Homo sapiens: one gene and its partner. Each later gene encodes a partner of the first gene's protein in a complex. Each region holds a gene or a part of one and is shown on either strand. Other genes may lie near its edges. The genes, in order: IQSEC2 and ARF1. A codon is read from its position in the direction of its gene.

Evidence for each region.
Region 2: the proteins of IQSEC2 (region 1) and ARF1 are in contact, whole or in part, in a crystal structure (PDB 6FAE), measured with the Homo sapiens proteins. Residues at the interface, in NP_001104595.1 of Homo sapiens: Arg810, Gln811, Gln841 (codon at 3,644), Arg845 (codon at 3,632), Val846 (codon at 3,629), Gln847 (codon at 3,626), Gly848 (codon at 3,623), Glu849 (codon at 3,620), Ala850 (codon at 3,617), Gln851 (codon at 3,614), Val853 (codon at 3,608), Glu854 (codon at 3,605), Glu858 (codon at 3,593), Asp879 (codon at 2,552), Phe882 (codon at 2,543), Ile883 (codon at 2,540), Phe886 (codon at 2,531), Ala887 (codon at 2,528), Ile889 (codon at 2,522), Leu890 (codon at 2,519), Asn892 (codon at 2,513), Thr893 (codon at 2,510), Asp894 (codon at 2,507), Tyr896 (codon at 2,501), Ser897 (codon at 2,498), Pro898 (codon at 2,495), Ser899 (codon at 2,492), Val900 (codon at 2,489), Arg904 (codon at 2,477), Met906 (codon at 2,471); in NP_001019397.1 of Homo sapiens: Arg19, Gly24, Leu25, Asp26, Ala27, Lys30, Thr31, Ile46, Pro47, Thr48, Ile49, Gly50, Phe51, Asn52, Val53, Glu54, Thr55, Thr64, Trp66, Asp67, Val68, Gly69, Gly70, Gln71, Lys73, Ile74, Pro76, Leu77, Trp78, His80.

What each region holds. Positions count from the first base shown.
Region 1 is NC_000023.11:53,244,532-53,248,436, forward strand, and holds part of IQSEC2 (IQ motif and SEC7 domain-containing protein 2), read right to left. Parts: intron 3,706-3,905; coding exon 3,583-3,705; intron 2,605-3,582; coding exon 2,438-2,604; intron 1-2,437. UniProt on the Homo sapiens protein: Is a guanine nucleotide exchange factor for the ARF GTP-binding proteins.
Region 2 is NC_000001.11:228,081,086-228,084,990, reverse strand, and holds the start of ARF1 (ADP-ribosylation factor 1), read right to left. Parts: upstream 2,284-3,905; 5' UTR 2,226-2,283; exon of another isoform or gene 2,141-2,225; intron 1,858-2,140; exon of another isoform or gene 1,617-1,857; intron 1-1,616. UniProt on the Homo sapiens protein: Small GTPase involved in protein trafficking between different compartments. Modulates vesicle budding and uncoating within the Golgi complex. In its GTP-bound form, triggers the recruitment of coatomer proteins to the Golgi membrane.

The DNA of each region.
Region 1 (3,905 bases):
AAAAAAAAAAAACTCACTAAGTGTTACTTATGGGGACAATTTGAAACAACCTAAATTTTAACAATAGAGGATAGTATATCCATTTAATAAGATAATGCACAGCTATTAAAAACTTGACATTTACAAAAACATTTCAATAGCATGAGAAAATTACAGTAGCAAATTATGGGAAAAGAGTAAGATAAATTGCATGTGTGGTATGATCTGAACTATATAAAAAGTTACATATGCATGGGGGAAAAGATTAGAACGCACCAAAACATTAACTATGATTGCCTCTAGGGGGCACATTTTGGGTGATAAAAAGAAATTTTCTAATTTTCTGAATCTTCCAACATTTCTGAAATAAAGTATGTATTACCTTCATTTATTTGCTTATTTATTTAATAATTAGAGGGGGAAGTTACACATACACACACACACACCCACACACACACACACATATATTGAGAGAGAGAGGGAAAAAGAATGGATGAATGAATGATGGCAAAATTCTAGGAGACAGCTCCAAATGGCCTCTGATCTAACTCCCTCCTCCCATGTTCACCATCCTTCTCCACTTCTGATTGCTGAGTGAAACCCACTCACTCTTCTCTCTAAATCCTCTACTAGAGAAAATGTTTTCTGGGCAGGACGTGGAGGCTCACACCTGTAATCCCAGCACTTTGGGAGGCCGAGTTGAGGCAAGGAGTTTGAGACCAGCCTGGGCAACCTAGCAAGACCCTGTCTCTACAAAAAATTTAGAAATTAGTTGGGCATGGTGGCACGCGCCTATAGTCCCAGCTACTTAGGAGGCTGAGGTGGGAGGATCGCTTGAGCCCAGGAGTTCAAGGCTGCAGTGAGCTCTGCTAGCACCACTGCAATCCAGCCTGGGTGAGAGAGTGAGACCCTGTCTCTAAAAATAAAAAAAAAAAAAACAAATAAAATAAAAAAACAGAAAACAAAAAAAATGTTTTCTTCCTTGGAAATGTCACATCTCCTCCTTGGACAGGTGCTAAAGGAACATACTACATCGCACTGACTTTCTTACCAGAGCAGCCACAGCGGCACAAACCTGATGGGCAGCCAATTTGTCTTGTGTTCAGTTTGCTTTTTTTCTTTGACTCTATTTCCCTCTTTCTTTTCTGCTTAAATAATCTTAACATCTGTACCATTTTTAGTAGCTGCTCTTTGGTGATAGGCAGGGCTCGACATCAGTAGAATAAGCAAAAAGAGCAAGGTGACACCTTTCATCTGGCATTCAAGGCCCTCATATATTGGTTCCATATATTGGAACCTCATATATTGGGACCTTCCCAACCCATCAATGACCTCATCTCAATTGTTCTTTTTTTTTTTTTTTTTTTTTCAAGACAGAGTCTTGCTCTGTCACTCAGGCTGGAGTGCAGTGGTGCGATCTTAGCTCACTGCAACCTCTACCTCCCAGGTTCAAGTAATTCTCCTGCCTCAGCCTCCTGAGTGGCTGGGATTACAGGTGTGCACCACCATGCCTGCTAATTTTTGTATTTTTAGTAGAGATGGGGTTTCCCCATGTTGGCCAGGCTGGTCTGGAACTCCTGGCCTCATGGGATCCACCTGCCTCAGCCTCACAAAGTGCTGGGATTACAGGTGTGAGCCAACGTACCCAGCCCTCAATTGTTCCCTAAAGAAAATAAATGTTCCTGCCTCTGCGCCTTTGGTATTCTCATTGCTAGGTAAGCCCTCCTCTATCTCTATTGTGTCACCTTCTCCATGCCTTCAAGACCCACCTTAAAATAAAAATACTACCTCCTCCAGGAAGCTAGCTAGAGGTGGGCTCTCCCTCCTTTGAGCTCTGACTGCACTTTTGGCCTCTCTGATGTCACTGTTCACTTTCTGTCTTATGTTAGTTATCTGGGTGCTACAAGTCAGCCTCTCCCACACACAGGGAGCTCTCTCAGAACAGGGAGTATGGCAGATTCCCCTCCATTGTCCTTGGCACCCATCATGGGGCTTGGCACACACTAAGCGCTAAGTGTTGACTGGCTGGCTGGTTGTTTGGTCGAGTGATAAATGAATGCATGAATAGAGGAAAAGGTACCTAAAATAATTAAATGAGTCCTCATGGGCATAAATAAGAGAGGGAAAGAAGGAGCGAGGAAAGGACAAGTGAATTACTGAATGAATGAATGAATGAATCAGAGTAAAGCCTTGTAAGAGTCAGGACTTTAATCTATCATGTTCACTGCTTGAACCCCAGGACCTAGAAACCTGGTACACAGTAGAAGCTCAGTACAATGGGCAAATGACGATTTGAGTGAATTAATAAGTGAATATCCTGGGAACATCCAGCTAGGGCAGAAAGTGACAGCATCACAAATTAATTTCCAAGGAACAGATGGGATCTCCTGCATCCTTCCCCTTACCCCCCACTTTCCCTTTCCAGGTGAAGGGCAGGAAAAGCTGACAGGGAAGTCACCTCTCAGGTTCTTGATGAAGTCATCTAGTTTCATCTTTCGTTCAGCTTTGACGCTGGGACTGTACATGTCGGTATTGAGGAGGATGATGGCAAAAGCAAGGATGAAGATGGTGTCTGGGTTCCGGAACTGGCGCACGAGGGCTGGGTTACAGACACAGTACCGCTGGCTGCAGGGCAGGAGGGGTCAAAGCCAGACTCAGGAACCAGCCATCTCTGCCTACCCACCATCCACCCAGTCTGGCACCAGCAACCCTTTCCTGCAAGAAATACTTTCTTGATCTCTGGGTCTGTCCTCTTCAGAGCTTCCCCTAGACCAGCATGTAAAAATCACAATCGCTACCTTTTACAGAGCTCTTCCAGGGGATTTATGTACGTTGTTTCACGTAATCCTATCATAATCCTGCAAGGTAGCTATTGGCAGTCCCATTTTACAGATGAAGTGACTAAGACTCAAAGTGGCGAGGTAACTTGCCCAAGGTAATAGAGCTGGTAAATGGTGAAGCCAGGATGAAAACCCAGTTATTTCTGACTGCAAAGCAAATCCTTCCCCCATTGTGGGAAACAAGTTCTCAGCAACTCCTGTTTCTCTTCTAAATACCCTAAAGTGGCAGAGCCAGGATTTAGACCCCAGTCTATCTGATCTCCAAAGCATTTATAGTACAGTAAAATGGTTAAGGGCATGGATGGATCATGGACTCAGACACATACGAGTTCAAATCCTGTTTCTACCACTTATTCACTGTATGAGCCTGGGCAAGTTACTTAACCTCTCTAAACTTCTGATTTCTCATCTGTAAAATGGGAATAATAACAGAAGTGCCTACTTTATGGGGTGGTTGTGATTATTCGGTGAAATAATCATGTAAAGTGCTCAGCTCTGCACCTGATACCTAGTAAGTGCTCCGTGAATGTTAGCTGTTATTGCTGATGTTGTTGTCACTTATCGAATGCCCATGTCCCAGAGGCTGAGCTAGATACTTTATATGCACTACCTCTGATCCTCACAATTGCCTTGCAAGATAGGATTTATCATCTCTGTTTTATGGTGAAGAAAGTATGAGGCTCAGAGAAGTGACTTATAAACACATACTACGTCGATGCCCACAGGAGGGAGGGGCAGCTTCGCGAGTGGGAGGTAGGCACACCTGAAGGCTTCGATGAGTCGCTCCACTTTCTGGGCCTCACCCTGAACCCGGATATGGGACTGGAACTTCCGGAGCGCATCATCCAGATCCATGGAGGAGAAGTCCATCTCATCCACCACACAGCTAAGGAGCAAAGAAGGAGGTGTGGCGCTTTCAATTCCTCTGCAGAAAACCTCTGACCCACCTGGACCTGCTCAAATGGACCAACACCCCCACTGATAGACTCTCAAATTCAGGACCTGTGGCCCGAGCAAGTACACATGAGGACAGAATGTTTGAAATCAAATCCATCTCAGAAAATTGAGGCAAGGCACGTGGTCACT
Region 2 (3,905 bases), on another chromosome or scaffold:
GGCCCGCCAGCCCAGGCTGGCTGCAGCCTCTTGCTCAGGAGAATGGTCACAGCTCAGGAAGAAGTGTGTAGGAAAGCTTGGTGGAGCCTGGCCTGTGAGTAACAGCAGGTTTAAATACACCAAGGAGACATTTAATTTGAAGAATCTAAAAAGAACTGCTTCAGTTCTCTGAAACCATGGTCATATACTACTCCACGTGTGAACTTGCACAAGTTTTTTTCTCTTAGGTCTACTTCCATGATCACCGCAGCGGCTGACAGTCCATATTAAATTCTACTGAACTGAAAAATGAAAGGTCAAATGCATCTTCCTATAGTTTCAAGCCTGTCTGGTCCGTAGGGGCAGATGAGCAGTTGAAGATGTCTGAATGTCCTCTCCATATTGTGCAAGAGGTACAGCCCATAGCTAGACCACATGATGTACAAAACCAGAACTGTGAGGGGCACAGAACCAGTTTTTGCTTTTCACTCACAGTCATTGTGTGACTCAGCTGTTGTCCAAACCAACTGTTTCAAATCTTTTTCAACTAGCAAATCCGAAAATCTGCCTCACAGGCAACAGCATATTCCTACTGCTGCAGTGATTTGGATTTATTTTCAACAAGATACGCCTGAAGACAAGTGACAGCTATTCTCCAGTCTACCAACATGTGAAAACATGGACAACACACTCTAACAATGTGTCCAATGAGATGTGTGACTAACATTTACACTACTCAATTCTTCTCAATTTTGGACCCAGCTAATAGTACGGCATTTCAGGACCTTATGGTTCTGGCTACCTAGGCAGTGCTGGTGAAAATTCAAATTAAATGAGGACACCATCCATGCGGTCACACGTGTTAGACAATGGCTAACGCAACAGCAGAGGGCCACAGGGGCCGCACACAACTGCACCGCGGCATCTCACACTCCTCCCAACACACTGCGGAAAACGCCAGAACCACCAGCCTTGCAACAGCCGGCAAAGAAAACTGCTGACCACTAGTTCTGAAACAAGAACTACAACTGCCCACTCCAACAGGGGCAGTGGCACCAACTCTACAGCTCTCAACTAGGCGGCGACTTCGGGGACCATCCAAAGCCTCCGACCTCCCTTCTTTTCCTGCCCGCGATTCCGAGTGCATTTCTGCTCAATTCCTGCAAAGCAGCAACTGGCTGCCTGGACTGAAAGGGAGTGCCAGGAGGTGCCGTCGGAATGGTTATTTAACACTCTAGGTGCGCACGGCTGTCCAGCCCCAATCTCACACGCCGTAACCACCCAGGCTGTGCTCCGAGAGAGCGCTGGGGCCGGCCTCTGCGGCCTAGAGTCTGCGAGCAGGTCGTTCCGCAGGCAGGTTAAAGATTCAGGTAGGTTAAAGATTCACCAGCTCAGAAGAGGCCTTCTTATCTACTGCCGACAACGTCAAGGAAACCACCCTGGAGTTAAAGCGAAGATCGACCGGCCCTCTGGAGGCCACCGGTGCCCTGAGTGCTGACCCCAAATTGCGTCTCACTGGTGTGAAGGGAGGCACTCTGGGCTCCCCCGGAGGTCCACGCATTCCGTTCAGCAGACAGGGAAGGGCACGGGGTTCCTGTCCACCTGCCCGCCCGCTCTCACCACCCCTGACCCGGTACCGTCTTCACAGCAAACACGAACTGGATGGAGTCGGGAGGCGAAGATGCAAGCCCCCACCACCTACATGACCTTGACGGCGTCTCAGGCCGCCCGAGCCTCAGTTTCCCGGTCCCCGAGGCGGGGGTCCGCCCGGATGCCGCTCGCTCGCCTGTACTCGGGTGGGGGAGGCCCCACGACCCCCACCGGCCCCCGCGGCCGCTAATCCCAACCGTCCACGCGCGGGCGGCCTCGGGAAACGAGAAAGGCAGAGGCGAGGGAAGCAGGAAGCCCAGGTTTCCTGGAGAAGAGCCCGGCGTCCAAGCGGACTTCCGGGCGACGGGCGGGGGCAGGGACAGGCAGAGGAGGACAAGCGGCCGCGAGCGACTTCGGGAACCTGTGAGGGGTGCGAGGAGCTCACCGACCCGCCCGTCCGCCCAGCCCCGACTCCGGCCGGGCCCCAGCCTCAGCCCGGCCCGTCTGCGTCCGCCCCCGGCCCGGCCCTGTCGCCGCCGCCGCCGCGGGGGTCGACGTGCCCTTCGCGAACCTCAAGTCGCCCCGAGGCCAGTCCCCAGCCCCCGCCGGCTCCAACGTCTCTGCGGCCCACACCGGCCCGCGCCCCTCGCCCTCACCTCAGAGGCTGCTGCTCCGAGCCAGGCGTTGGTTTTGCTCCCACAAGATGGCGGCTCTGACGGCGGCCACGTCAGCGCCTCCGGGCGCGGGGCACGCCGGGTAAGGGGCGGAGACGCCGGGAACTCCGCCCACCGTGCGCCCGCGACGCAGGCGCGCTGGCTCCGGTAGGGCTGCAGGGGGCGGGGCCGGGGACACCCTGCCCCGGGCCGCGGTCTTAGCTCGCGCGCACCCTAGGGGCGCGCACCCGTCTGCGCCTGCGCCTGTGAGTCTTCCGCGAAGACAGCCTGTGGCTCACTCCCGCCCGTTTGGCGTATTTGGAGACTGAGGCCCGGGGGGCTCCTGCAGCAACTGGAGCTGCGGGGCTGGTTGCCACCTTCCTCCTCCCACACCCGGCAGTCACCGGGAGGCCTCGGGGACTGCGTGAGGACGGGGGTGCGAGGCGCCCCTCGCCGGGGTTGGGGTTCCTGGCTCCCAGGCTGCGCGGGTCCACGTGCCCCGGCCCTGTGGAAACCTGTGGCACTCGCGGGGCCACGGCGGAAGGTCCGAAGGCGGGAGGCTTGCTGTGTCCCCGCACTGGCCTCGGCGCCCCGGCGGCCGCAGTGACGCGCGGGCTCATACCTGGGCCCGGAGCAGACGCCGGGGAGCTGGCCGCAGATGAAGCAAAGGAGGAGGTGGCCTGGGGACCCCGGGGTGAGGCGGGGGCCGTGGGGGTGGGGCCCAGGGTTGGGGACGGCCGCCCAGAAGGGAGGTCACAGTGGTCTCTAATGAGCTGGCCTTTAAGCTGAGATCCAGTTGAGGCGGAGGAGATCCCGCTCTCAGGCACCTGAACAGAGGACCGTTGCAGTCCCTCTGTGTTCCGTGTGCTGGAGGCCTGGCTCTGCCCACCACCCTCAGGTCTTCTTGCCTCTTCCCTTGTGCTGCTGTGAGGGGTTGGGCTTGTGGGAAAGTGTCCCTGCAGCACAGTGCCCTGGGTATTGTGGAGGTCGGGAATCAACCTGATTTGTGCAGGCCGAGGCCCGGGGGCAGGGCCTGAGGGGTGGGATCACTGGGCCTGGCCCAGGCCTCCTGCGCCCCTTTGCTGCCCCCATCACCTACGTTGCTTGCCCCTTGGGCAGGGCGTCCTCACTGCCTCTGGAGGCTGCGATGGGCAGATCTCTCCCCCAGGGCTGCACCTGCGGGGGCTACGAAGGTCCCCAAAAGCGGTGACCCTCCTGCCCCCAAATTTAGTCCCTTTTTCTGCCTGGGGCTCCCTTCCGAAATCTCACCTCTGTGAAGCTGTGGCAGGGTTGTCTGTTTAGGGGAAGGACGTCTCCCACCCTACAGGCATCTCAGATACTCTTGGAAAGCCCCAGGGAGGGTTGTGGATGCCTGTGGAACCTTCTGGTTGTGCTGCCTCTCCCTGCTCAGCCAGAGCGGGGCCATGTGCGGACATTTCACGGGGGTTACATGTGGTTATGGCCTCTTTAGGGCTGAAGGGACCTGGCTTTGGTTCTCTGCTGGCAGAGCGTGGCCAGGGGTGGCTCCAGGGTCACTGAGCGGGGATTGTGTGGGAACCAGAGCCTGCCTCCCCTTCCTTTAAAATACTTTTTATTTATTTATTTATTTTTGAGATGGAGTCTTGCTCTGTCGCCCATACTGGAGTGCAGTGACACAATCTTGGCTCACTGCAATCTCCGCCT